Linked DNA regions of Homo sapiens: region 2 is linked to region 1. Evidence: fine-mapped expression QTL. A gene starts in region 1. The other region holds a variant in brackets. All regions are shown on one strand. Distances are from middle to middle.

Region 1 (15,645 bases):
ATGGAATTAATCCTCCAAACTATAACTAAAATATAAGGTAAATAGCCTAATGCTTTTATGATTGTTTATTATCTCTCTATACTGCAAAATCTTTTTGGAAGTACTGTTATGAGTCAAATGGAGGATGTGCTAAAAATGACTTCTTTCCTCCAAAAAAGTTAATAACAATGGAGCAAGAGGATGCTTGGCCATGACCTCACAAGTATTTGGCAAATAAAAGATGCAATCACTACAGAACTCTGCACTTGAGAAGATGAGGAAGCCATATAATATGGATATTTGCTAACATTAATGTAGAATATCATCTATTAGTGGTTATTCCACCTCTAAAAAAATTTCCAAATTCAGTTTATTTTATTGGAATTCAGCAGTTTGTGGGGAATAGTACCAAATTTTGATCTATGAAATATATTAAATATTACACGGTTTATAGCTTTAAAAAATCAAACTGATGCCAGAATATAATTCCAATGAAGATATATTTCTCATAATATAGCCAAACCAAAAAGAAAGATCAAATTCAGTGCTCAAATAAGTGCAAAAGGAAAGCTGATGATACTACACAGTTATTTCCAGGGGTTTCTAAAAACTACCTCCAAACCTCACTTCCTCCCCTTGTACAGCTGCTGTGGGAACAAACAGCTTCACTATAGACTGTATACATAAAGAGAAACTGAGAATAATGATCAGTTATGTTCCCATTCTCAGGTACCAGGCCATAAAAAAACCTTAAAATCAGATAAATATAGAGAATACTACTGTGTCCATTATCTAGATGAATTTATCGTGGTCATGCTCATTCCTATATAACTAGTCAATGAAATATTAATATTAATGTACAAGGCCTAATAGTCAATCAAAAGAAAATTTCATAAAAATATAAATTAAAACACATAAATGAATGCGGATGGGACATTACAGATAAACATAAGAAGACTTTCTTTTCTAGAAAGTGGAAAAAAGGAGGCCAATTGTCTCAGTACCACAAGATTCGGGAATGACATTTCAATGGTTTTCTTAGATTTTCTTTGTGCCGCGTATGTGCCAGACTGAGTGCTAGAAAAGCCAGCAACTCAGAAGTATTAAAGGCAGACACGGCCAGGCGTGGTGGCTCACGTCTGTAATCCCAGCACTTTGGGAGGCCGAGGTGGGCGGATCACGAGGTCAGGAGATTGAGACCATCCTGGTTAACACGGTGAAACCCCGTCTCTACTAAAAATACAAAAAATTAGCCAGGCGTGGTGGCGGGTGCCTGTAGTCCCAGCTACTCAGGAGGCTGAGACAGGAGAATGGCCTGAACCCGGGAGGCGGAGCTTGCAGTGAGCTGAGATTGTGCCACTGCACTCCAGCCTGGGTGACAGAGCCAGACTCCATCTCAAAAAATAAATAAATAAATAAATAAAAATAAATAAAAAGCAGACACACACAAAGCCTCAATCCAAACAACAAAGAAACAAATGGGCAGATTCTCAGATACCTCACAGAGTAAAGAAGGACTTCCCTGTACTATCTTTCCAACTTCCTGCATATGAATAATTTTTCAAAATTGACTTAAAAACAAATGGAAACTTTCAAAGTGGCCTCCTGAGGTTTTGAATTATGCAAAGATAAAATATGACTGAATTAGTATTATCATTGTAAGTGACAGAATTACTGAAAAATTGTTTCTGGAGATATCTTCTAAACACATGGTAGGAGAAAAAGGAAGATATGAGGTCAGCATCATTCAGTTAAGAAACATTTATTGAGGCCTTCTACATATAAGACTGAAGGCAAGCATTAAAAATTCAAAGACAGAAGTCATAGTATGGCCCTCAAGCTTAGAGGGGGAGACAACCAAGATCAAAAAGAATTGCATGTTGCAATGTAGTAGTGGTGGATAGGTTGAAAATAAAACCAGAAGTGCACTTAATTTATAATGAATTAGATGAGAAGCCATTATGAAAGGCTTACTAGAAGAAGGAATAGCAGTACTCAGTTTTATTGGATGAAGATAAATTATAATCATGGAGAGAAGCTAGAAAGGGCATTCTAAAGTGAGGTCTTAGCATGTGCAACACCTTAGAGATAGGAGAGGACAGAGAGAAGAGCAAGTGTTATTCACATGCGGAAGAGGTAGCAGAGGGGCCAACAGGGGGCTGGTTCTCAAATCTGATGGAGAAAAGCCTGTTTGGCCTCTACCTGGCACCATCACATACCAGGCACTGTGAAAAGTGCTGCTAATATAGTGATGAAAAAGACTTGGTTCTGCTCCTCAAGAGGAGACAGAGAGGAGCTGTTTCTCTAGTGAGAGAGACAGGCACAACCTGATCATTCTAAAATAACAGTTTGAATAGTGATCTAGAGGCGTTCGTTATGGGAATGAGGGGAAAATATCTAGCTTTCTGTGAATAGGTATGGGAATGTCAAGGGAGTGTAGAGAGTGAATTATAAGCAGTTTGGTATACCTGAGAGAAATTAAGCAGAAAGGCTGAAGAGATGCTTCTGGAGAGGTAAGCATATTATAAGAACGTCAAGGGGTATGGACTACGCCTTGCAGGCAATGGAAATTATTAAGAAGTGTGACATGGTGAGACTTTAAATGAATTACTGTGACAGCATTGTGTGTGTTGGTGTGGGAAGGAGGGAAATGAAGGATGATGAGGGCAAGAAACGGTCAAAAAAGGAAGTAAAACCAGTAGAATATAGTGCCCAGAAGACAAGGAAGATGGAAAGAAATCAGAAGAAGGTCAACAGTGGAAAGTGCAGCCAAGAGACTTGATAAGGGGTCAGAAAAAATTTACTCAATTTGGCAATATGAGATTATTCTGTCACTAGGGTCATCAGTTTCAGGACAGTGATGAAGACAGAAGCCAAACCGAATAATTCTAAAAAGGTAAATTAAGAAAGTGAGGCAGCTAGTATATACTAGTATTATCAGAAGTTTGAAGGAAACAAGGAAGGACAAATGTCAAGAGAGATTATTTTCCAATATTTGTGGCAAGTGAAAGAAGTATTCTATTTCTTCAAATTATTCACATTGAATCATGTTGACAGCTGCTATAAAGAAAGAGTCGATCGGGAGAAAGAGTAGGAGATACAAATAAAGGATTTAACTACAGAATGAGTCCAGAGATGAAGAGCATTTGGGTCAAGGATATGGATGGCAAGTCAACCCTGAAGAAAAGAAACATTTGGTCTTCTGGGAATGAAAGACAATGACGATGGCTATGGAAGTTTTTAGGTGGTAGGAGGTTGAGGAATAGCAGAAGAGAGATATCCATTTCCTCCAATAAAACAGATGATGAAATCACCTGCTGAGAGTGAAGAACATGTGGGTTTAAGATGAAGCCTGAATAGGTCTGAAATTACTCTTGAAATAAATAGGACCAGGGCTAATCAAGCCCATGGTTAAAGACTGACAAGTGATCATTTACTAAACATGATATTTTTAAAACCCTCAATCTAATCCTTTTTCATAAGGTAATTTATTTCATAATTTGCTTTATGAGTTCAAATGTAACTCAGCAGTAATCTAAAGTAAGGCAGTGTTTATTTTACTTATTTTCTCAAATTGAGGTGCATCATCATGTTATGTTTGTTTAATTTCTGCTTATATTTTTGTTATACACATAAAAATTATTGGCCGGGCACAGTGGTTCATGCCTGTAATCCTAGCACTTTGGGAGGATGAGGCAGGTCAATCACAAAATTCGGAGTTTGAGACCAGCCTGGCCAACATGGTGAAATCCAGTCTCTACTAAAAATACAAAAATTAGCCGGGTGTGGTGGCACGCACCTGTAATCCCAGCTACTTGGGAGGCTGAGGCAGGAGAATTGCTTGAACCCAGGAGGCAGAGGTTGCAGTGAGCCAAAATCGCACCACTTCACTCTAACCTGGGCAACAGCGCAAGGCTCTGTCTCAAAAATAAAATAAAATAAATTTTTAAAATACGGCTTATGTTATCACAAGCATCACAAGCAGAAGTTGTTTTTTGTTTGTTTGTTTTTGTTTTTGTTTTTTCATCTTAAAAGAACCCTGCCTGGTAGGTATCACTTTTCCTGTTATATAGATGAAGAAACTGAGTATCAGAGAGGTGGAAAAAAAATGACACATCCTTTATTTCCCAGTAGGTAGAAGTGTCAATAATCACTCCCAAGTGTTTTTCTTGTCAAAGTAGAAATTTTCCACTATATCATAAATTGTCTTAATTGAAGATCAAAGATAACTTGAATTTAATTTTTTGCCCATGTTTGTTTTGTATTTAAGAAACATAAGATTATCCCAAGTCTATTGGGAGAAAAAGGTGATTACGTTAATCAAAAGAAAAGTCACTTTAAAGAGTCACAGGAACACTATTTTTTAACCAGAAGCTGTTTTAGACATGACACTAATAACTTTCCTTAATTAAAAAACTTATCAAGCTTTATGAAAAATATTTAAGAAACACGATCTAACTAAAAAATGGTTCTTATTGATAATCTAAATGTAGTTAACTCACAAGTTTGCATGTGTGGTAAGTATTAATCCCTCTTTTCTTAATATTTTTAAGATCTCATTTATATCTGCAGAAATAAAGGCCAAGTCTAGATGGCAGGTCAAACTTTTTACTAAAGTTTGAAAATAGCGCCTACAGTTTTTTGAAAACCATTCGAACTGCTGGAATATTTGGCAATATTTGACATCGTCATATAATGAGTCAACCAAAATGGTTATGATTATTTCAGTGCTTGCAAAGATTTCAGGCTAGAAAATCTTCCCCAAACCTCTCTTAATTGGACAAAAATTTATAATGCTCCTAGGAGTATGGAATCACCATAACTGAATATATAAATCTGAACAGATCTATGTCTGTCAGCAGACACAGAATATTTCCAGATAATATTTTCATGTATATACATTTTTGGCCTCAAACATTAATAGTAGTTCAATAGACTTAAGAACATAAATCTGTCCCCAGTACCCAAAATAAAGTATATGCCTCAAATTACATTTTAGTGCCATAAATATATTATTAATCATTAAACTAGGAAAGAATGAAAAAAGTTTCAAAAATGTGCAGCCATTGAATTTTTGTTCCGAATATACAAACATCACTTCGTTGTATCATCAGTAGCCTGAGACTTAATTAGAATTGCAAAAAAACATATACATCACTTAGTCCAACTCCTTAATTTGAGAGACAAGGAAACTGGGCCCAGGGAAAGAAAGCTTACCCAGATTCAGTTGAGGTTAAAGTGGAATTCAAATCTAGGTATCTAGATTCACAGTTTAATGCACTTCCCAGAAGCAGAAAAGATATAAATAAACTTATGTAATTTCATCTGGCAACCAAATTCAGACACTGAGTAGAACTTTAAGGATAGTCCTGAGTTTGCTGTTTTATCATATTCAAAAGCACCTACCATAACAAGTGGATAACTAAACAACATTATAATCGCAGGATGAACATTATTTTAATTATTTAAGCATATTATAAACAAACTTCAAACTACATTATTCAAGAACTCTTCTGAGTAACAATCAACTGAAATCATTCTCATTGAAAACACACAGCACAAACAAGTGAAATAAAACAAACTACAATGGACCCCCCAAAAACCCCAAATAAACATCCAACTAGTACTTTCAACCCCACAGCCTTCAATTCTACATGAAGCACTGTCAATTGAGCACTGATTTGCCTGTATCACCAATCAAAATGCAAAATAAATCATTGTGAAATCTCATTGGTTTATACTACTGCCTTTATATATATTAGCTTCCGGAAAATCATTCTGAAGAACTGAATCATCTGTATCATTTTTACTACTCACTCAGGCTTGACACTGTCTGCACAGTACTGACTGAAATGTACTTTGCACCTTCTTTCCAAATGAATATCTATGTCAGGTTTATTTACAGCCACTCCCTTCAATCAGTGCATTCTCAGGTATGAGAAATAAAATAATCTCAACCATACTCTTCTATAGAGATCTGAAACTAAGCGTGGACATCTTGGCAACTGGCCTTTGGAAAGATAATGAAAGATCTATACCATAAAATATACATTAAGATTATTGAGATTCCAAGAACAATCATCTTACACTCTTTAATTAGCACATGTAAAGAGCCCCAGGTACAGAGAGCTAATATAAAACCTATGCACCCTTTTGCATAACTCTTTAGGTACTCCAAGATTATTATAACCTCCTCCATTCTCTTTTCCTCATTCTGATTTCTCTGAAATTTGGGTAACCTCTTTGTTTCTTACTTAGATGTTTTTCTCTATTTAGGAGCTTTTCCTTCTAATTCTTTACAAAAGCAGGGCATGCTTCCCCCTGCTGGGAAAAAATCAAATTACAAGGTACATCAGAACATGTTCCTAAGTATTATATCAAGAAATCAAGTTCCTAGGAAAGATAAAATGTTAAGGAACCAAGTGCATTCTCTGACTGTTTTACCAGCCACAGAAATACTTATGCACTCTGTTAAGAGTTTCTTGTATGCATTTATTTAGCTTGGCCGTCTTCAAGTACAATAACTCATATTAATGACTGATGAATTAATCTTTGAGCCACTTGTCTCAAATAGAACTCCAATTAGCGGGTCAGAGAGAATGATCAATTTGTAACTTTTTTTTCACTTTAAAGACATATTATAAGCTACATAAAGAAAATTCTGGAAAATATATTGAAGACTATTCAAAATATATTAAAGATACTGAAGACTGGTAAGACTTGCCTTTTAAATCATTTCAAACAATCTTAAACATCTATTAACACATTATTTTGCTATTATTTTTATGTAGTTGTCTTTTTTGGGAAAGTAAAAAAAGTTCGTTTTTATTGACTTTACTTTTCCACTTTAATTTATATTTTTTTTCATTCAGTAACCAAGAAAGTAGTAGGCATAATTGTATTTCACCTTCCCACTTATCTATAAAACTAGCTTTTTCCCTGAAAACAGTTTAGTTATTTCACATGTTCCATGTTTTGAATATAAATCTTTTCCTAATTGTTTAGTATTTAAACATAGAAAAATACCTTACACTTCATTGTTAATATAAATAACAATTCATAAATTAAAAAATATAGCTAATGCCTATTTAAATCATATATTGAGGAGCAGAATTTATTCTTCCTTGGTACAACTAAGTCTCAAAAAAATCTTTTAATACTGAGGAGCTTGGGTAGAGGAAGTTATCCGTTTTAGTTTTTTGCTGTATGTAAGTCCATAACAAACTTAGCTACAAAACTGCATTGTAACCAATTTGATGATGAAGCAATTCATTATTAATGAAGCATTCATCTAAAAAAAATCTGCAGATGTTTTAAAAAGGCATGGGTAAGTAACTACAGATACCATAGGTGTCTTTAGTATTTAGATGGCATTATTATAACATAAATGGAGTAATTCGGTTAATAAAGTTCATGTGTCTTTTTTCAAAAAAAAACCTTTCAAAGCAATGCAAAAAACAAGACATATGTGTTCCTCTAGGAATGAAATCCCCTTTAACATTACAGGTACACAAAAGAAAATGCACACTTGGTAAAACAGTTGATCAATTATAGAGTGTTCCCAGGGACCAATATCTCACAGAGTACCCAATCATCACACTTCAAATAAATGTATAAGCACTTTAGCCTTTACTTACCACATTAACATACATATAAGAACATGCATAGTTTAATGCATAGGTTAATTCTAACACTTTCCATAGGATAGACTTTGATTAAAGGGTATCAAAAATCACTTCCTAAATGCAGCAAAAAATAAAAATAAAAATACCGATCTGTAGCTACGAAGCTCTTAGAACACTACATTGATCACCATTTACTTCCAAACTGCTTTCCCTTCCCTCTGCGAAGTGAAAATGTCCCTGTAGACCGCGTTACATACACTTTATGGTTTCTCTATCAATGATCCTAACAGGTCACATCGCCACTGCCATTAGATCTCCGTAGCTTTGGTCTTCTCCAAATTAAGACGTGGAGAAGGAGCACTGCTGTCCGCCCCAAGAACGGGGTCTGTCCGCCCGAGCTCTAAGGCGAGCATCTTCAGGGGGACAGTTTCTGCGAAGGCGGGGAGAGGAGTCCCTCCCCAACTTCACTCCCCTAATCAAGCCGCGGGTGAGATAGGCAGCCGGCGGTTTGTGCCCATCTGTGGGGGCAAGTCCTACCTTCTGCCAAAAGGCGCGACGCATGCACAAAAGATGGATCCAGGCTATCTTTCTCTGCCATCAGCTCAGGCAAATATTTCTCCTCTTCCATAGCGCGGACTTCGGATTGTCCCCGGGCGAAGCGCGAGGTTCCGCTCGCTCGGACGCAGGCAGGGTCTTGGGGCAGCGCCTGGCTCCCGCGCTGCTCCTCCTCCGCGCGGCGAGGGATCTCTGTGCGTCCTCACTGGCCCATGCACCCAGCACCTGCGACTCCCGCCGTCGGGCTGCGTGGCCCCGCGCCCACACCTGCCCGTCCCTTCCGTCGTCCCTCGCTCGCGCAGAGCCCCGGCTCACACCAGCGGCCTTAACTGGAGAGGCGGGAACAGGACGCGGCCCACCTCCGCCAACCACTCATTGGTGGTGGTGCCAGGAGAGGCGGGGCGCTGGCAGAAGGCCGCGGGCTCTCATTGGGCGGTAGCGCAAGTCGGGTGGCCTGACTGGCAGGAGGCAGCTGCAGAGGGGAAGGGAGCTCGGAAGATGCAAACGCTTTCTTCTTGCGCCCAAGCCTTCCCTGGCTATTAGGCATGCCCAGTTTTGTGGAGTTCTCTGTGTCTTCAGCTAAGGCGCAGAGGAGAGAGAGCGCGGGAAAAGCGCAGGTTAAAGAGAGAGGTCTGAGTACAAGTGGACAGGGGAGATGGAGATGAGAAGTGAGCCACCCGAGAGGGTGGAAAAGCGCCAGGGAAAGTCTCAGGAAGGTAGATGGGACTTCACCTGCGTCCCTAAGGCACAGGTGTCTCCTTTCCCTCACACAGCTCAGGCGCACTCCAGTTGTGCAGGAATCAGCAGCGCACTGGGTCTGGAAATACAATGAAGACTGCATGTGATCGGCAGCTGGTATTTCCGATGACCTACATCTCAGGGACGCAGTAGGATGTTCATTGATAAACAAATAAAGCGGCTCGAAGAAATATTGTGCAGAGACATGATTGAGGTGTACAATCATTAGGATATTGAATTAGTTCTGGTAACCTATCCGTGCCTCCTTTCCCCAGACCCTATCTGTGGAAGGGAGGTTGGGAGGGGCTGAATTTAAAAACCAAAAACAATATGATTCATTAGTCACAGTTTGTGAAAGAATTGGGAAGACATGTAGAAGAAAGAAGAGACTAGAAAATAGGTAACCACGTTTGCTCTAATTTTCCCCTTTCTCCTAGTTTTAGATGTGCCAGTCTCTTTCACCAGGTACTGTTGCTGAGCTACTTTGTATTATCCCACCTCTATTTAAAGGAAAGTTAAACCCTCATGATATCACCAAGCGTGGAGGCAAAGCCCATCCTTCTTTTACCAATGCGGCTATAAAATGTAACTTGCATGCCTCAATCGCTAGGAAACAATCTTTCCCCAAGTCTTGGGTTCTCGTTTCATAAGTAGTCATTTCCTGATTCTTCTCTCCCCCATTATTTTTGGTGTGGAAGAATGAGGGCCAACTTTGCTACAAATAAAATGTGCTGAAATTTTTCCAACTTATCTTACTGTATTTAAATATTTTCCTTTTAATTTTTAGATAAATTCGGGAGATTAACTTTTATTTGTATAATGTTTAAATAACGTAACGTGCCTCACATTGATTATTTCAATACGTCCTCACAGAAGCACTCTGAAAAATGCCAGCCAAGTATTACTTTCTCTGTTTGTATAAATATGGAAACTGAGGCAAAACAGAGAAATCGTCTCATGTCTAGTTAATGCTGAAGTTGAGATTAAAATTCAATTCTATATTAGCACCATTTATATCCAGAATATACTGCTTCAACCTACCTTTCTGTGTGTTATATATTTAATTTATTTGTGCATGTGTGCATTCAACAAATGTTTATTGGATACTGAAAAGAGTCTAGGGACAGTACTTAAAATTGGAGAAACATTGGTGAATAAGATACATACACATTCATTCCTTGTCATCACAAAGATGTTTTCTAATGGGAGAAGATAAATAAAACCAAGTATACAAGAGGAATGGTAATTGTTGACTGCAATAAAGGTCAAGAATGAACCAAGGAGTTAAGAAAGAGAATACAAGGGAAGACATTAGTTTCTTTATTTTTGACTAGGGTAAACATACAATCTCGATAAGCAGCTGATATTTACGGTGAAAACTCATGGAAAAGAATGAACCAAGTGAGTACAATGTGCAAAGAAAGACATTCCAAGCAGGGGAACTTGCCCCTGAAAAAGCCCTGTGGTGGAAAGAACTGTGCTGTCTTTTGGAATTGACTGAGGTCAATGTGACTACTGTAATATGGGAAAGAATGGAATCAATAAGGGAGGGGGGATTGATGTGTACAAACACTGAAGATTTGATGAATGAAAATTATTTGGATTTTATTCTAAGTGTAATAGGGGACCATAAAGTATTGGTATCTTTCTGGATGTGCTTCTTAATCTCTTTCTGATTCTTATGTTACTTTCAAAGGAGCTATTATTTAGAATTGAGTATATATACAGAAAGTTCTTGCTATTTTATCTGTGTGCAGAATGTTTAGTAGTTGAAGGGTCATGCATCCTGCACCTGGTCTGCAACAGGGATATAAAGGGAAAATATGCTTCAAACTTAAAAGAGGTGGCTACGATTTGCTATGGTAGTAAAGGGTGAATACGATGCCAACCACAGGCAAAAAACTGTAAATGTTTTCGAATAAATGTAAATTAGAACAAAATATTTTACAATTACAATAACATTTTGCTTTGCAGCATATCAAGACATTAAAAGCATATGGTGAGGATGGAGACGTGCAGAAACCCAGTTTCATGAATGAAGAAGGTGTAGTAACTCTTATAATGTCCAGCAACAACAACTACTTTATTATTCACAGCCATCTTTTCCATGATTACAGGATTAATAAGAAGATACCACAGCGAGCTGTCCAAGTGCTGACTTTATTATACAATGTCTTCAAGTCATTATAAATACAGTCAAGTTAATATTTTCTAGTTATTATCAAAACTAAAGATTTATTATTTGTAGTTCTTCAGGTAATCCCTCATCAAATGCCTAAAATGTATTCTAACAAAGCAATATATTTATGCAACTTAAAAAATCAAAAGAAAATAAACTCTAACATAATCTTTAGAAAAGTTTGTGTACTTACTACATGATGGACATTGTAAAATAAAGATATATAAGTATATTGACCCTTAAAAATCAATATGCTTCAGAATTATCTCACAAAATGTTGCCTATTTTTAAACAGAATATGACTAAATAAAGGCAAACACCAAGGGCCCTACATATACACTCATCCAGCATCAGATCCACGTGTTTTCAATAGATGGCTCTGTGTTACTGCATGTTCTCCATTTATTTCACATGCAAATATTTTACAGGTACAACATTATCCTTTAATATTCTCAGAGAAACCTTGAAAATGCAAACATTTTATAAACATAAATGTAAACAGAAAAACTTTAAAAAATGATTGTTGAATATAGAATATTTTGTGTCTACCCTTGAATAAATTATAACTGCTGTTTAACCCACCTCTTCTAATGATATGAATAACCTAAATCACCACTGAATTGATTTGCCTAACTTAAGTAAAGATTTATCTTATTTTAAACATGACTTCTAGCCCCAAAACATTTTTAATGGAGTTCTAGTAACTTTAACATTATTTTTAAAATGGGATATTATAGAAAATTTTGCCCCAACCACATTTGGTTTTGAAGGATGAATAAGTCATGCACCATAGAATATGTTCTGTGGTTAAAGCACAAACTGTATATTCAATATTTTCACACACCCTTGTAAGAAAGGTCAGGCTAAAGGGCATTTAATCAGACTAATCCTTGCAAACTAATAAAAAAATACCCAGCCTGCATTATCAAGTAGAGCACAGTTTCTGTTGCTTCCAGAGTTCTTATTAACTTTATGGATACCACATTAGCTACTCTTGACTAGTTACTCCAAGGATTAACTAACTCTTGACTAGTTACTCAAAGGATTCAGTAAAACCAACTCACAATAAGAACCCTATGTTTCCAAAATTGTCCTGGCCCAATAATTTACATAATGATAATGGAGAATGATGGTGTTAATATTCTTTTAGCAATCTAATGCCTTGGTGCCTAGAACAGAGTATAATAAACTATAATAAAGGACTGGCCCACTTATATTTACTGTAGAGCCCAACAGAACTTATTATATAAAAGATGCTATTTTAATATCTTAATTTCTTTGAATTTCACTAACTACACAAGTGAAATCAGTTCCAGTTTCTTTTAGAACTTCTATGTTATACTTTAGGATTGTAAGAAAAGACAAGGAAATGAGGACTTGGCTCTGCTGATGACCAATAGTGGTAATTGCATGTGTAGTAAGAAATTTCTAATATGTAATATGCTCAAAGATAAAATTTATGCTATATGATAATATATCATAGTACCACATAAATATTCACCACTTAAAGCTTGTGTGTGTGTGTGTGTGTGTGTGTGTGTTTTCTAATTAGAAAGCATTCTAGTTATTTAATAGCATATTATATTTAAACTGATACAAATATATAATTAAAGAACAACAGAATAGAGACAGAAAGAAAATTATTGACATTTGTTGAGGGTCTGCTACTGTGTTAGAACACTGCTGTTCTGAATCCTCACAAGTGGGAGGAAGGAAGGAAGGCCAAGGAAGAAACTGTTCTTAATTCTAATGTGGCTTAGCCCAGAGAAACTATTTCTGAGGTTTAAATTATCTGTGTTTGAAAAACTAACAGAGTTGATGTCCTTGTATCTCCATGAACAATTGTTGCACTGCCACATTTTGGGTGGCACTCATAGCAGCTGAGGAGCAGTACTTCATTAGAGGAAATGGGAATGGGGCTGTTGTTCCAAGGTGAAAGCTATTTACTATATTCTTAAAATTAAATCCTTGAATTGTAGCTCAAGTATGGATTATTTCTGGAGATCAATATGTTAAGGTAAAAATCACATCAGTAAAATATATTTTTCTTACACATCAAATGAAGATCTAATCTCTGTTGTATTCAGTATGCAATAAAAATATGAAGGCTAGGAGACGATTTAATAAAAATGATAATAAAGTACGTTAAAACTTTTGCCAGACAGGCAGATGTATAAGCAATTGTTTTATATCATGAATAATACAAAAAAGGAAGCATGGATTAAATTTCAATTTAATTTGGAGGTTAATTAAAAAATTAGAAAACTATTAATATTGAAATAGTATTTTAAGAGAATACCATCCCATTCAAGTTTTTATATTACAACAGACACTTGTTTGGTATAAGTTTTTGTCATTCTGGTCTCTCACATTTAAAGACATTACCACGCATATAACAATCATTATGAAATCTACTGTATAAAATAGTTCGTACAAAGCAATTGCCAGGCATTTTAAGAGAATGATAATAAAATTAGAATATACAGTTCCAAATTTAAGAGTTTATCAGTTTCAAGAGAAGAAAACAAAATAATAAAATCAAAGACACATACATTGTATGTGATGCTTGGTGATAGACTGTGTGACCATCCAACCAGCACAGAACTAATAAATATCATAAAAATTATCCCAATACATTGAAAACAAATACAAGTGTAATATTGGATTATATCCTAGATCAGATTTTGTTTTTATTTTTATTTTTCATGAGAAAGAAAATTAGTGAGTTAATTTGTTAAATGTAAAAAAGGTCTGTTGTTTAAATTTACTGATTTTGCTGATGTACTGTGATTATATAAATGAATGTATGAGTTTTTAGAAATACACGATAAAGCATTCAATGGGTAAATGGGCATCAGATCAGCCACTTACTTTCAAATAATTAAGAAAAAAAATAAATGTTTATGGATACACATAAAGGAGGTGGGAGGGAGAGAGACATAAAAAGACAGAAAAAATGGCAACTTACAGTAAGTATGGTGAAATATTAACACTTGAAGAAGTTTGATAAGGGGTATATTTAAACTTTCTGTATTATTTTTTGCAACATTTTTGTAAATCTGAAGTTATTGCAGAATATAAACATAATTTTAAAATTAGCTAGTTATTAACAAAAATAACTTCAAAGTATTTTATCCACACTTCAGTTTAAGTATCATATTTTACTAGCCAGCCATGGAGTTCATAAGTCCATATTTATATTATATAACCTTTGTTATAGTGTGAATTGAGTTCAGAAATTTGGCCACAAAATGATAAATTTTGTTTAAAAAACATAACTTTACATATCTTACGGAAAATACCAACCACACGTGTGTAAATTACCTATTTATCTTTTTTTCCAAATAAAGGATAATACAAATAATTGTGTTGGCTCAATTATTTCTTTTAAAAATCCCAATGGCATCGATTTGTCAAACAATAAACCATTTATTTTGAAGAGATATAAGAAGTAACTACAGTTCTGACTGGGCGCGGTGGCTCATGCCTCTAATCTCGGCACTTTGGGAGGCTGAAGCAGGTGGATCGCCTGAGGTCAGGAGTTCAAGACCAGCCTAGCCAACGTGGTGAAACCCTGTCTCTACTAAAAATACAAAAATTAGCTGGGCGTGGTTGTGGGTGCCTGTGATCCCAGCTACACGGGAGGCTGAGGCAGGAGAATCACTAGAACCCGGAATGTGGGGGTTGCAGTGAGCCAAGATCACATCACTGCACTCTAGCCTGGGCGACAAGAGCAAACCACCGTCTCAAAAAAACAAACAAACAAACAAACAAAACAAATTAGAAGTAACTACAGTTACATTTTAATTATAGATGTAAACATGGGACAAAAGCTATAGTTTACATGCTTCTTGTATATGATCTTGGGCTTTGAGTGTTATGATATCCCTGCATTTCTGATTTTACCCTGTATCTTCTAAATGCTTTCATTCAGTTTGTTAGCTGCCATAGACAAAGTGTATTTTTTTTTCTTCTATCATAATGTGCTCTACATGTCCTTGAATGCATTCAGTTGGCTAGTTCAGAACCTAGGTGGAGGAATGGAATAGAGCAAAGTAACAAAAGTTATTCCTGTCTTATTGTGACAAAAGTTTATCATTGTGGCAAATGTTTAGAAGCAGTAAATACTGCTGTATTATTGTGACCAAAGTTTGGGAGCAGTCACCCCATAGATATAGATAGATAGATAGATAGATAGATAGATAGATAGATAGATATATGCACACACACACACATAAAACTAGGAATAGTTAGCAACTTTCTCAATATGGTAAAGGGCATTTATGGAAAACCCAGTATTATTGTACTCAGCAGAGCAAGATAGTTTTCCCACTAAAATCAGAAATAAGGCCAGCCTGCCTACTTTCACCACCTTCATGCAACATAATGTTGGAAGTACTAGGCAGAACACTTAGAAAACAAGAAATTAATGGAATCTAGATTTTAAAGGAAGAAGAAAAACTCTTATCTATTCAGAGACATAATCCTGTAAGTATAAAATCCCAAAGAATCCACAAAAAACTACGAGGTAATAAACAAATTCAACAAATTTGCAAACACAAAGTTAAC
Region 2 (15,645 bases), 320 kb before region 1:
TGACATTTGAACAAAGATTTGAAAAGGCTGAAGTGCTGAAATGGAGACTTGTGGGGAGGCTTTCACACTGAGGGTTCGCTCAAAGACCCTAAGGAGAGAGCAAGCCTGACTTGCGCATGGGTACAGTGAAAAGGTTAGAGTGACCAGAGGGAAAAAAGGGAAGACCACGGCACATGAGGTCAAAGAGAAGTTGCTGGGTGGGCAAAATCATACAGGGCCTTGAAGGCCATTATAAATTCTATAGCTTTCACTCAGCATGAAGCAGAGAGCCAGTGCTGGACTTTAAGAACAGGACTGACATGATCTGGATTACAGTTTAAACGGGATCATTCTGGCAGCTGTGTTTAAAATAGACTATGTAGGTACCATATAATAAATACAATAGCATATTTTATGTGGAGATATATATATATACACATATAATAGAGAACCAACCAGAACCTGTGTTCCATGAAAAATACTCTAGGAAAGGTAATGCATGAATGAATTGATGCTCTAAAGGCAAGTATATCTTACAGGCAATCTTCAATAAACACTATTTCTCACAAGTAAGCTTTGATAGAAATTGGGCAGCTGAGTGGGTTTATAATCTCTGGCAGAAGTTGAATGGCAGTTCTATTGTGTTGCTAATCAAAAGTATAATGATATGCTTTGAAAGTTCATGGTTAGGTTCTAAAAAGCTGGTCTCCCTAGGCTCCTGCTTCAGTAGAAAGAAACATGACTTCTCTTGATCAGCTTGTGATGAAGCAATAACTGTGGGCACAACCAATAATATTCTCAAAAACTTGCTGCTCTAACACACGAACAAAATAGTATGTGTGGCCTGTAGATCTGTGCTCCATTTCAGTAGTTCCCAATCTATGGGCTGCACACTCTAAGTGATTGTATTTTTTATGTGTGGGAGGGGTCAAAGTTTTGCAAAGTTATTTTTTTTAATACTAAATTTGGATGTGACCTTTCAACTAATACAAAGTACAACTATTACACTGTAGAAGATCCACTAACTTTTTCAACATTAAACTTGTAAAATTTGGGGAGTTCTTTTTATAGTTAGAAGATGCTTACAATCAATAAATTAGGATAAATAAATCTGGAGGATAACTGTCAAAAATGATCATTTTCATTATCAATTTTCATCTTCGCTTTCTGACAAAAATTATATAGTCATGACTACAGTCTAGGCCAGGCCACTCCTAGGGGTGACAATAAAATATCATGTGAATTTTATACAAATCAGATTTAGAACCTTTGTTCCATCAACTATCAATGTGGGATTTCGGCTCTGGAAGCTCAGATTTTCAGTTAATAAAAAGGGAAACACATTTACATTTTATGTGATAGTAAATGTGTGAATAGGTCTTTGTTGGTGAGCATGTATGATTAAAAGGAAATGAGTCTCAATGCTAAATATTTGTGCTGGCCATTCTGTTTTTATTTCTCACACTGACAGCAGCAGACTTATTCACTACCAAACACCACATAAGCTGGTTGCTATTTAATAGTGAAATAAAACATGGCAGTAAACATGATTGCAGGGAGTAAGGGTACCATCACAAATATATGCAAAGCAAATAATATTCCAATATCAGTTTTGTTACCTGAGGCTATGTTCTAAACATGAGATAAACTCCTGGTTTAATGTAATTATAAATTATGGTATTTAATGATATGGAATATGATATGAAAACATGAGCAATTACATTTTAGCAGTCTAAGAAAATATCTGAGGATCCAGAAATTTCAGAATGAGGGAAATGCTACTGTTTTAAGAACTAACTCACTTTACAAAAGCTGAAATATTGCTCTAATATAACAATCTCTAAAGTATGTTGAGATGAAATTAGATAACTTCCTGAACAAGGACTACTTGGCCAAATAAATATGCAAACATTGGATTGAAAAAGTTTAGCTTCTTCACTGCAGCACTCCTCAGAGTCTTTAAATGGTAATTAGGGATGTGACTCTATGAAAGGGGAACACTGAAGAAAGCATTTTGTAAACTTAATTGAGTACAGGGGCCCTCTCACTCTTTCTTTTCCAATAGAACACTCTGTGAAATAAGTGTTCCAAATAATATTTTGGGAAATGATGTCCTAACCCAATCTAAATTAAGGAAAGTTCCCTAATACAGTCTAATTGGGACACATAGCCGGCAGGATTTTACAAGGGTTTCTCCTCATCCCTCACATTTTGATGTGCAATCATGTACGTGGGCCTGATAAATCCAAGTGAAAGGTTTCTTCTCGATAACTAAAGGAGATAACTTCTGTGATCTATAAATTAGAATAATTTCTTACCAAATATTAAAAATTAAGCTGAGGAAAATATTGTTTCTTCCTTTACACCTAAAGTTTAAAGGAGCTTTTCCATAACAAAAAGACAACTTTTAAGATTCTCATCTTGTTCCCAAAGGAATGACCAGTTTTAATTCTGTTTTCCAGTTGACTTTATGAAGGGTAATGTCATCTAAAGACATGTACTTCTTTTCCTCTGAATATATCACAGTACAAAATATCGGACCTCCTTGCACTGCGGCTCGTTACCACAAGTTCACTTACAGAAAAAAATCGAGCATGAAGCCAAGATTTATCACTTACAGTTTGTTGTATCAATTGGTGCTACAGAGGAGTAATGCTGCTTTTTAGGAGCCCACACATATATATGTTGTAGAAGAATTTCTGGCTAATGAAAAAATTCAGTTAAACATTTTTAGCCTGTTCACATTGTAAGAGGCTATGTTCATCAATCAATATTTATTGAGAATGACGGCACAAGCAATCGCATCAGGCAGCATGGGGCTTATAAAGTATAATCCAGCTTTGATTTCTGACTTCAGGGAGCTGAATTTCATTAGGGAGAGAAGAGAGACACATTTGCAAATAGCATATTCACTGTCAACTTATATGTCTCCCCAGCATATTAGATGTCCACTAGTGTATTTACACATCGAATTTTTAATTTATGAAAGCAAATTGACTATTTCTAAAAAATAAGCTTTTTTCTCCTTGAAATTAAAAGCCTGTTATTGCTTGTGATTTGATTTTTGAATTATTTTAAAGTAACACTTGATGAACTTAATTAGCTAATGTGATTTACAGATACTGAGTTATCTAAAAAAATAAATTGAGGAATCATTGTCTTGGTCTAGATTTCAAGTGATTCTGACATTTGAGTTGTAACATAAATAACAGATGAATGAGCCAAACAGCAGTGGCAGAAATGTGCTTCAAAGGAAAAGCACTTAAACAGATTTCCACACAGGTGTTTAGGCAAAAATACAGTCTACCAACAGGATAAAAGATACTTTAGTCAAATATCTGTACATTTTGTTCTACACATGGGTAAACATCTGTATACCCAGAAATATTTAGATATTTTAATGTTTCACTTTATATTTCAGTATACTTGTATATTCATGAATATTCATGTATGTTGCACAGAATTTGTTAATCTTTGCACTTGGGTGAATGTAAACGAAGTTCTGTTGCTTTTTGGAAAAGAGGAGTTTGATGTTGGCTTTCTAGGGCTGAGATGTAAAAATTAAAAGGGAAATGCTAAATTCCAGTGACAAGAGTCCAGAGAGTTTCCACTCTGCTCTGGGAGGGCTTATGGTTTGCCATGTGCCAGGGGCCAATTTCAGGGCACTTGAAACATCTGCTCCCCCTACTTACAAATCAATCATAGCCTTTATGGGTCTGGAAGCTTCAAAGTCTTGGAAAGAGGCAAGAGGACCCAGTCTAGACTGCTGTGGGTATGGTCAACCGCTAGGACTGGGAAGGAGACCAGATATTAGGCATCCTGCTCATTCCTGATCTCTAAGTATTTACCAGATGACAAAAGTCAAGTTGGGTTTGGAGAAACGTGTAGTTTTCGGGTTAACATTATTCCCTACAGTTTCTTCTTTTTATCTCTGAAAACTGCATGATCAGTGGAGGCAAATGGGGATTAAAAAGCAAGAGAGGGTAGATATTTTCCAGATTGGTTGAGGGTCAGGTAGTGAAAAATCTGATATTCTAAGAAGAGTCACTCTGGTTACCAATATATGTTAGTATTTATTTTGTTATAATATTGTACAGTTATTTTTAATTTCCAAAGAATCATAAATAAATAATATATATAATGTATAAATATGGAGATTCTGGACTATGGTAAAGTTGTCCTACTTTAGAGGATAAGTTAAGGCATTTTCTTGCAGAGGAGAGTAGAGAGCAATGGGAGTACTGATATTTTGATGAATAATGTTTAGAAAGTCACTTAAATTGGAAGGAGACGTTTGAGTGACTGCAATAAGTTAATTTAAAATATAATAGACATTCCACAGTCAAGTTTCCTCACCTTTGTGTATATTCTTTATAATGAGCTACATTTCCTGATTTTACTACTTAGATAAGAAGTTTAGGGTCAATCAGCAATAGACAGAAAAGCCTCCTATTATTCATAGTGTACCTCCTCTCATTCTTGCTCCTGCAGACCAACTGTTATGATTGATATCAGGGGAAAATAAATCTCTGGATGCAATACATTCTAACTGTACTATAATTGACATAGAATTTGTTTTACGCTTAAAATGAAATCTGAAAATGAGAATTACACTGAAAGGTAATGAATTACAGTTTGGTAGTAAAATTATCTCATCGTAAGATAAAACATTCATTTAAGAAGATAACTGTAAGAAAATGTACTTTTCTATTACAACTATCTTCGGGTAGTTTGAGGCAAAATGATCTGTACTTTTCAATATAGATCATATAATTTTCTAATATGAAATAAATTTAGCATTTTAATGCAATTTTAGTTATGCATTTTAATATTTCTTTCTCCCATACTATGACTGTGATGCTTCTAGTGTAAGTCTCCCTCATCTTTGATCCATGAATGTGAATTCCCTGGACCTCTGTTGTCCAGGGGACATGATAATTTGCATGTGCATTTTTCTGGGCAGAGAATCCAGAGGTTTCTTCTCATTTTGAAAGTGATCTCTAAGTGATCAGTGATCTACTTGACCACGGAAAATACAAATTACACAATATCTTAAGAAGCCAAAATCCAGCAGCCCAATTCTTCATGCTGTCACTAGTCACATGGCATTCCACAGCACCCCAAAACTATTCTAACTTCTAACTGTAACTTTATTGTTGTTATTATTATTTTTTGGAATACGGGTTTTGAGAGTCTTAAGCTTCCATAAAACCACTAGGATCAGGTTAGCTTCCTGGCTCAGACATTTCTTTTTATTTTCCTTCTTTTTTTCTGCCTCTCCCTATCATGCACTTAGAGAAAACCTCTCCTTAAACAGTACAATAGTCAGAAATGCTCATTCATTCATATATTTATAATCCTAAAAATGAGCCTAATTTAAACTAAAAACATTCAGTCGATTTATTTTAAAATTCCTAATTATGTTTAATAAATGAATGGGATAGTTTTATACACTGAGATCTACAAAAATTATGTATATTTTTAACTGAGATAAATTTAAAAAAATAGAATTATGGTAGTTTCCTTTATAATTTTAAAATTATCTTGTTCATTTAAAGTCATACAAATATAACAAGACACATGAAATTACAATTGTGTGCCATGTTTAAATGATTAGATTGGAGTAGGATTTCTTTCCACTATGTTTACAAAAAAAAAAAAAAAAAAGGATAAATGAGCCCACTGAAATTTCAGACTTAAAAGAAATAAAACAAAGTAAAAAAGTGAAATACTTTATAACAGTAAATCATAGTATATCTGTGAAATTTGAGAGAAAAGACAGTCATTTATTTGAAAGTGCTTGGAAATGTAAGCCATTTTACAAGCTGTATGCTGTGAAGATAGATGATAGATAGATAGACAGATAGATAGACAGATGGATAGATTGATAGATTGATATAGATATAGATAGATATGAATGAAAATAAGAAGCAGCAGGGTGGGCTGTAGCTGAAAGGAGAGTTATAAAGGGTCAGTGGGGAAAGGAGAGGGCAAGAGCTATTATAGCAAACCCAGATTCAGAGGAGTCCCAAACCAGGAGTGAGTAGAAGCTCTGAAGTCAAGAAAGCAGAGTGGAGGTAAGCAAGTCGGTTGGGAAGAGGCTGAAAGTGAATAAGCACACAGAGAGAGGTGGATTATTTTAATGTTGAAGTTATTTATTAGATTTCCTACACTGTCTAGGACTCACAGTTCTCTGTGAGGCTCTACATTATTATTTTGCCTGCTCTTAAAATTTCCATGAGAATCTCCCTTCTCTCTCTCTCTCTGGCCTTTTCTCTCTCTCTCAATACATACATACATACATACACACATACACACACATACACACAAACATACACACACACACACATATATATATACACATGCATACACACACGTATATATATATATATATATATATATACACACACACACACATGCACACACACACATACTGAAAATATACCCCCTCTCTCTGCACTCCTCACAGTGCATGGCACAGTAGTTAAATCTATAACTTTATTACTCAGAGAAGAGGATCTTTAAGCTTTAGAATGTTACTGTAATTTAAATAGTATTTTCTTTTATTCCTGAGAATAACCAATGATATATACACATTACCATGCCAGTCCCTCTTTTGCTGCTGAAGTCTAGTTTCTAAATATATTTCAGTACATTGCACTATTAACCATTCTTACTGTGAGAATGACCACATTATAATGTAAAAAGGCATCATCTTGCTTCTAGATATGAGAGTATTCCTGAAAATGTTTGGCAATGCATAATTCCAACATATGATATGTTCATGCCCCTACACCTACCACAGTTCTGTCACATACTCCTTGCCTATGTTTAAAACAACCGTGAAGTGATTTCACGAATGGGTGTAATATGTTTCTGCCATGAAAATAAGAAAGTGAAAACAAGAGGTCCCCAAATAGAACAGCCTTATGAATATATTATTGAATTAATGAGTATCTAAGAATGTGCAGGAAAAATTGCACCTGTGTTACCACTAAAAGCAATATTGGCAAGTGCTTGCTGAATGGTAATAAGTCCAGAGTTGTCTATGTAACCATAAATAGGCATTATATGATTCTCTAAATACAGAGAAGCCTAATACTAATTACACAAACCATGCCACCTGCAAGTTACTTATTTAGTGCCCTTCAATACAGCATGAGAAAACTTACAGCATCTGGGCCTGCATATTTTGATAATATCCTTGATGAGGAGGCATCTGATCAGGCCCTTTTTTGTTGCCTGACCTCGGGTAGTTTAAGTAACCATGCTGGCCTTTAGTATCCTCACTGGTAAAATGAGGCTTAGATTCCACCTGTGGTTTTCAAATAACCCTCTTTGGAGCTCTGTGGCTTCTGAGAATTCTTTAGAGGATTGACAAAAATAAAAGAAAGAAAAAAATAATGAATTTCAAGTATTTTCTTCCAAACATTAATATTTATATTGCCTTAGAAACCTGTTAATTGTTTTGAGCTTAAGTATCCCTTCCAGTTCTATAATTATAGAAATGAATCCACATAGGTATTGAGATAAAAGCTTTTACATATAAGATCTTTTCTGTAATAAAGTGAACTGGGCTTAATGCAAGGGTAGCAAGTTTATCTAAATAAAGAATTTTTGGATAACAGATTATTGTTGCTCATAGAACTTAAGGTTGATAATGTAATTCTTATAAGAAGTGACCTGTGTTTTGCCACATTTTGGTGAGGACATCATCTAGGTTCTAGAGAAAAGGTTATTCTCCTTGTATCACTAACATGCACAGTTACTAGCAGATTGTTAATCATAACAATTCAGTACACTCTCTAAACAAAGAATATTATAAAATATGTTTTATGCAGTGGGTTTCTTTTGTTGTAA[C/A]AATGTGTCTGGTCTAAAAAGATGTCTGTACTTTGCATGAGGACTAGTTTTAACTGAAATCTTATCCTAACTATAACTTGTCTATGTATGGGTTTAAGGAGAGTACTCATATACCCTTTATTTGTAAAACATTTCTTTTTTCACTTATAAAATCATTTTCCTCTGATTCTGAAACCTATCCTGGCTTATAAAGTGTCTTTCTAAAGCTTCAAATTCCTCAAATAAGAAGTAGATTAGGAATAAAAAGAAAAGAACAGAAGAGGATTAAAATGTAATTTATGTTGGAAAAATGCAATAATTTCATCAGATGGCATTTTCAATCCCTTCAGTATGCTATGGATAACAGACAAGACCAGTGAAATTGGGTGAAATTATTATATGAATTTGTGTATTCAAATTTTATTCTGACTTAAATAAAGATAAATACTAGTTGGAGGCCGTAGAATTCTAAATGAGAGGTGTGTTTCAAAAAAAAACATATAAAATCTCTTAAAATTTTAAGATGTTATTATTCTTGGTATAAGAGAGCAACTAAAGTTTCCATATTATAGAAGTCAAGCCCTAAAATTCTAAAGTTCAGAACAGAGAAAACGAAGAAAGGGAATGAAAGACATCTGAGAAATAGTAGCAATATAAAAGGAAACAGATTTTGGAAAGTTACAATTGACTCATTTATGTAGATAGAAATAACATAAGTGATTGTCTTCTCTCTATATATGTGTGTATCTATATATAATATCATGCAATCTTGTTGACTGATTAATTTAAAATGGTGCTCTTACCACCATCATCATATATCAATAATTCATTATTGAACTCCCATGTTACTTGATTGGGTCATTTAAAGAAAAGTTTCTTGTTTGCATGAATAAAGTAAAGAGCTGATTAGTTAAAAAAAAACTGCATATTTTCAGACTCTTTCAAATGCATTTAAAAAAAAAATCCCATCATTTTATTTCAAGTATGGGCTGATGAGAAAAGAGCAACACCTGAGCATATCTTGGTAAAATGCTTGAATTCTAAGTATAAGGTGAACTACAGCTCTCATTCAAAACGACCAAGTTAAGTACACAGAAGAAAGCTCACATGCAACACTGGATGCAGGAAGATGGTAACCTAGCATTTAGAGATTACTGAGAGAGAACACTTCACTGTGAGAACTCTGAACACATCGAAGAGTCCACTGAGCTAAAAGGAAGAAAGTCATTTGAGGATTTGCAACAGTTCTACTGGTCTATCATTCACATACCCCAACAGGGGAAAATATTTGAAATTAAGACTCAAACCAACAAGGCCAACTAGATTATTACAGGACCAGTGTTACGCCTCTCTTGCTCTATGTTCACATCACCTACCAGTCTCATTCTTCATGACCTTTTCACAAAGCTCTTGGAGCACTAAAAGCTGGAGACTGTACAAGGAGATGAATGAGTATAACATGCCCTCTTCCCACTGCTACTCCCCAAGCTGTAATTTGTTCTAAGCCTGTGGGAGGAGAAGAGTTTTGTATTAGATTTGAAATGGCAATTATAAATTGGAAATAAGTGGGCTTCTTAAAACCTCAAATGCCTAAATTGAGACTCTTCTTATAGAAGAAGGAGTAGAAAACTATGTTATTTGTTCAAGCTGAAATTAAGAATAAGAAGGGGAGAATGACAGTTGTTAAGAAAAATAAAGCCAAGTCCTATTTGTATCACATTGAGTACAGACCATCCAGTAAGCCATTTGTACTTGTATTTTAAGGCATTGTTATATATGCATCCTTACATACACTACGTAGAAAGACTGGCGTGGAGTGAATGAGAAGGGAACAACAATAACAACAAAAATACTAAAGATGAGATAGAAGTTATATTTTTGGTACAATAGGGATTCTCTGAAGTTTCCTGGCTATCTAGTTTAAATATCATCTGGAAGAATCAATACATTTTTCATTGTAGCTTGCTGAGTTTCAAAGTAGTAAAATGAGATCACTTAATCAAGGAAGGGCAATTCAAAAAAAATGTTTTATGTTATTTAGCTCTTTAAAAAGTAAGAATTAGTTGCTAGAAGTTGAAGATACATTTCAGAAATACATAATTTTGTTAAAAAATCAGTTTCAAAATATGCTATACTCTGGAGGTGTTTCTTGGTGTATTTTAAAATGTTCACTGTGAAATAGAATCTTTGGCTGTGGGTCATCAATATTTTCAAGAGGCTAATCGAACTCTCTTTCTCTCTCTCTTCCTCTCCCCCTTCCACTTTCTCTCTTTGTCTCTGTCTCAGTAGATAAATTACCCTTGTTTGTATGGTGGTGGTCTTTGCCAGCAATTGATTTTCGTTGACCCTAGGAATATCACTTTCTGTTTGATCAGTGTTTCCTGCTCTATTGTTGCCACCATCCTTCCTTAAACACATTACTATCCAATCTGGTTTCCCATTTCCAGTAGCTCTCAAATAAGTCTTTATAATCTTTATCTTTTACATTTTAGAAATAGTTTTTCTGGTTCTTAAATTCTACTAGGTCAGTGGCTCATGTACCATACATTGCTAGAATTGTGCCTGGCATATATTTGGTGTCCAGAAATATTTGTTGTGTTAATTAGTATGATCTATTCACCTATTTCCAATTCTTATCTCAGATAAAAATTATAAACCTTACTTAACAGATTCTGATTACTGGGCACCTTTTCTGCTCAATCTCCAGTAATCATGAGTCTTTTTGAGTCACATTCATCTAAAAGCTATTTGCAGGTCAGTGTTGACATATGATTATTATGCCAACTGCTTCTTTTATCTGTCTTCCAAGTTATGTCAATCAATTAGCAATGATACAGTAGTCCTGGATTTCAATAATAATAATCATGATTCTTACTATTATTCTATTCTAAGAACTAATAAGAATTTTAGTTTTGTTCTAATAGATCTGTATTATCTATTACAACTTATCAGATAAGAAGAAATACTCCATAGATGATTACAGATGTCTTCCAAGAAAATCAGACTATTATCATAGTGCTATAGCACTATAGCAATACAGGAAATATTTCTGAGCAACTAATAATTACATAAATACATGTGGCTTTGTGCTTACTGCCATTAGCTACCACACTATTAGAATATGGTTAGTTACAAGAAAGAAAAGGGAATTAATTGGTTTTGAGATAGCAGTATGAGGGAACTCTTGACAACATTTTAACAACCACAACAATGAAGGAATGAAATCTGGATTATGGATTCTGCTTCCCTCTCTGCATTGAACTTTGTTTTTAAATTCTGTAACCAATCATTCTCTTGCTTGTAGGATATTATTGCTATAAATGTTGAACTCCTGCCGTCAGCCAGTCAAAATGTATCTGCCATCTCTCACCTTTTAGGTCTTGCCATTTATCAGTTACTTTTGCTGGCTGGTGGGGTTTAGTTGAATACATTGTTTTCCCTATATATTCACCTGCATAAAAGACTGATCAGCCAGGTGTGGCGGCTGATGCCTGTCATCCCAGCATTTTAGGAGGCTGAGGCTGGTGGGTCATCTGAGGTCAGGAGTTCAAGACCAGACTAGCCCACATGGCAAAAGCCCATCTCTACTAAAAATACAGAAATAAGCTGTGTGTGGTGGCATGCACCTGTAATCCCAGCTAAGGCAGGAGAATCACTTGAACCTGGGAGGAGAAGGTTGCAGTGAGCTGAGATCACACCACTGCATTCCAGCCTGGGTGAGAGAGTGAGACTCTGTCTCAAAAAGAAAAATAAAAAATAGACTGATCAAATTTTCACTTTTTCTCAAATTATAGCATCAATTTCAGGGACACATTTTTATATTTATCATCTTCTAAAACTTTATAACTTTTTTTTAGTGTATGAAAGTTTAGATCTATCTACTAGACTGAAAATTCTGCTTCCCTTTTCTATTTTTCCTTACATTTACTTACTTACCAGTATGATTGCTGTTAGTAATCAGTGACATTTTCCAATTTCAGAACTAGGATTACAGTGTTTGAAGAAGGGAGGCAAGAATATCCTCCATTTGCTTTTGCCATAAAGAAGAAAAAGGTTTTACTTTTCCTCCATAGTCAGGCTCTTGGTAGGTTTCCCAGATGTGTTACCAGTATCTCAAACTTGAAATGAGATAATACACCCTAATTCCCCCATTTCAAGAATCACAGCTATCACTAAGACACACATCCAACTAATGCAGGAAAGAAAGAAACTGGAATGATCTATATTTTTTCTCTCTTAAATTGACTTAAAATCTTATATATGAGTCTAGTAACAGTTACACACATACACACACACGTTTACATAAGTATATAAGTTATATATATATCTTTCCTTTAAATTATATAGACCTCTAGTGATAATCATTAAAGACTTAAGCCTGGCATGGCAAAATTTTTCAAGTTCTGTCAACTCTGCTAATATTGTAACGCTGTGCAGCATGCTGTGTTGGGAAGATTCTGGGCCATGATGGGCCAAGGTAGAAAAGAGAATCACAATCTCTTAACTATGTCAATAGGATAGTTATTGGAAGATGTAAAAAAGCAATCTATTTGTTATCCATGACCTAATCAAATTATCTGTGCAAAAACTCCTCCTTTCATCTTTTTAATGAAAGAATATATAAACACACAATGAGCAGAATTTCATGCAACACTTCATAATTTCTAATTATGAGACAATGTACTATGTTTCAGTCATGAGTTAATAATTAAGCATTAGTAAAACTTATTAATTCAATTGAATTGAAGGTGAGAATAAGCCAATTTAGGAAAATAAAACAGTGTTATCATTTTGAAGTAACATACTGAGAAGGATTAGAAATAGGAAAGTTGTATTCATGGTCCTAGGTAGTACTATTCACAAACTATGGTGTAAATGTTACCCCCTAGAGTTGCACAAGACACAACTCTCACAACCATATGTGGCAATCCTGGTGTCTGAACTATGAAAGAAAGAAATAGTATAAAATACAATAGTGGCAATACTTGCTTACCTCTTTATAGAATATAAAGAGAGGAGTGCATCAACATTATTGAAGCATATATTAGTTTAGGATTTTATATCCTGTTTCTCGTTACTCATCAAAAAATTTATTTTACAATTCTAACCTGTATTTTTAAGATAAATAATCAAATATAATGAAAACTTTAATACTTCACCTCCCAAAAGTACTAGAGATTTAAAATTAGCCATGTTCAAATTAAAGGTGTTTTATTGACCCTTGACACTCTATTTGTTTTGAAAAGACTATAGTGTGTCTGGGTGTGGTGGCTCACATCTGTAATCCCAGCACTTTGGGAGGCTGAGGCGGGTGGATCATGAGGTCAAGATTTCGAGACCAGCCTGACCAATGTGGTGAAACCTCATCTCTACTAAAAATACAAAAATTAGCTGGGCATGGTAACATGTGCCTGTAATCTCAGCTACTCGGGAGGCTGAGGCAGGAGAATCGCTTGAACCCAGGAGGTGGAGGTTGCAGTGAGCCGAGATCGTTCCATTGCATTCCAGCCTGGGCGACATAGCAAGACTCCATCTTAAAAAATAAATAAATAAATAAATAAATAAATAAATAAATAAATAAATAAATAAAAGACTACAGTGTGTGAATGGAGACCAACAGGCTGGAAATTTTCCCCAAGGCAATAATAATTCTTTTGTCTTCAGCAATCCACTTAAAATGCTGAAAGTGGGTTGTTTACCAGCATCCTAAAGCATTCAGACAGCTCACAAGGAGTTCTATGTTCTAAAGTTGGTTATCTTAGACAATTACAACCCTTGGACATACAGCAGGTTGAGTAAATTCTGGATAACATACAAGAGGTAGAAGAAGGTAAAAAGTCCTACCATGGAAAATTAATCCCTTTCGCAGAAGAACAAGATGTCAGTGGAATTCCAGAGTCTTGCCCTATATAAGCCTTCTTTGTTGTTCTAGCATGTCTCTTACTGCCTAGAATTCTTCATCTACAATGTTTGCAAATGTTAATGTATAGAAACTTTAGCATTTCTGTGGGCTTTAATATAAAATATCAAAAGAACCTTAGATCACCAAGTCATTTCATAGAATAAAAAAAATTGGCAGTTCATTTTTGCCCCTTGCGGTTCTCCCATTCTTTGCTTTCTGCTGATGCAAGCAAGGCAAATGGGATAAATTTATGACTTTCATTGATGGGAAAATTTACTAATAAAACATTGAGAGACATATCAGAATAGCCCTCATGACATTCATATTCTAGCACAGAAATCAAAGATAAGCAAGATGCACACACACACACACACACACACACACAGAGAGATATAAAACATCTGAAGGTGATAGGAGCTATGCGGAAAATAAGTGAAAAGGACTAAGGTATAATGGAACAATGAATTATAATGTTAAATAGAGTGGTTAGTGATACTACGTTCAAAATATAGTAAGACTGCATGATAGAAGGTAAAGGGGGCAGCTACTTTAGATTGTGTGGTTGGGGAAGAGTTTTCTACAAAGCTAACCTTTAAGCTGACAGCTGGATGCTAAGGAAACAGCCATGTCAACACTTTGGAGAATAATCTTCAAAGGTGCTTAATGAGCAGTGAGCCTGGACTGTTGAATGAACAAAAACCAGCATGTCTGAAGTGCAATGAATAAGAAGTTAGACATACAAGATGAAATCATAGAGGTAGGCATGGCCAGGTCACACCAGCCATGGTAATATTTTCATTCTTCATCTGAGTCTGTATATATGGTGCATCTTGACTGTGGGGTATTAGCCCCCAAATTTTACCTGGATAGCTATTTTATCCCCTGCACCACTCCTCATGCCTATAGGCAGCCATTCCATCATTCCATCAGTCAAACTATCAAGTAAATATTTATTGTGCTAGGCATGATGCTAAGATGGGGATACAGTGTTGGCCAAAGGAGATACTGCCAGCCAGCCCTATCCTCACACAGTATATATTTCAGTGGAGAGTATATAAATGAAATACTTACAAGAATCATTCTGTCTAGGAAGTGAGCAAGCGAGATGTATTACTGACATTTCTAATAGAGGAGTGTTAACTTAGCCTACAGAGTAGGATATACATATATGTATATATACATATGTGTGTAGATATACATATCAATTAATAACTATGCAGAAAATCATCCCTTGATATTTCTATTATATTTTCTACAATATATTTAAACCATCCATTAATATTCTGCTTTATAATTTTCTAAGTCCTTTCATATGCATTACCCCATTTAATATTCATCATAACTGTGATAGAGGCTGGTCAATGATAATTATCTTCATTTTAAAGATGAATAAACTGAAGCTTTGAGAATTTAAATGACTTGAAGTCATGTAGTATGTTAGTAATGTACAGTCCTAGTCTCATTTTTATACTATGTATGCTATCAGAGGTCTGGTCTGAACTAAATACAGTAAAATTCCTTACTCAATACAGCACTAGGCATTTAGTTTGGAGGCAAAAGGAAAATAAAACGTAGCATCCTCATTCTTAATAAATATGAGATCTAGTTAGGGAGATGTTCAGATGAGCATCAGATAATAAATTGTGCAGAAATTCAGTGTGCATATGAAGTTAAGAATAATCAGAACGGTCTGCAATTATTCTATAACCTTGCCTTGACAGAAATTAATTTTTAAACTGGACATATAAATAGATTATGTGACTAGATCTTGATGCTTTTAAATTCTTGAAATTCTCTGGTTTTATTTTTCTTTTCCCATTCTTAAAATCACTGCCAATCAATGAACCTTACCCACCATTTCCTCTTAGTTTATTGCTTATTTAGAAATCTGCAGTTTCTTCATTGTGCAGATCTATCTTAGCTGT

What was found. PIP is the estimated chance that this variant, and not a neighbour inherited with it, causes the effect.
Region 2: its variant is fine-mapped to the expression of KHDRBS2 in transverse colon (GTEx, PIP 0.96).

What each region holds. Positions count from the first base shown.
Region 1 is chr6:62,277,717-62,293,361 of GRCh38, forward strand. It overlaps KHDRBS2 (KH RNA binding domain containing, signal transduction associated 2), which reads right to left and starts at 8,509. Exons shown (of 9, transcript NM_152688.4): 1 at 8,142-8,509. The coding sequence starts at 8,232. RefSeq lists a silencer at 8,369-8,458.
Region 2 is chr6:61,961,577-61,977,221 of GRCh38, forward strand. The region is part of intron 4 of KHDRBS2 (KH RNA binding domain containing, signal transduction associated 2); the gene reads right to left. Among named protein-coding and RNA genes, the nearest start is that of KHDRBS2, 320 kb to the right of the region's middle. The variant C/A (reference allele first, on the strand shown) is at 7,840.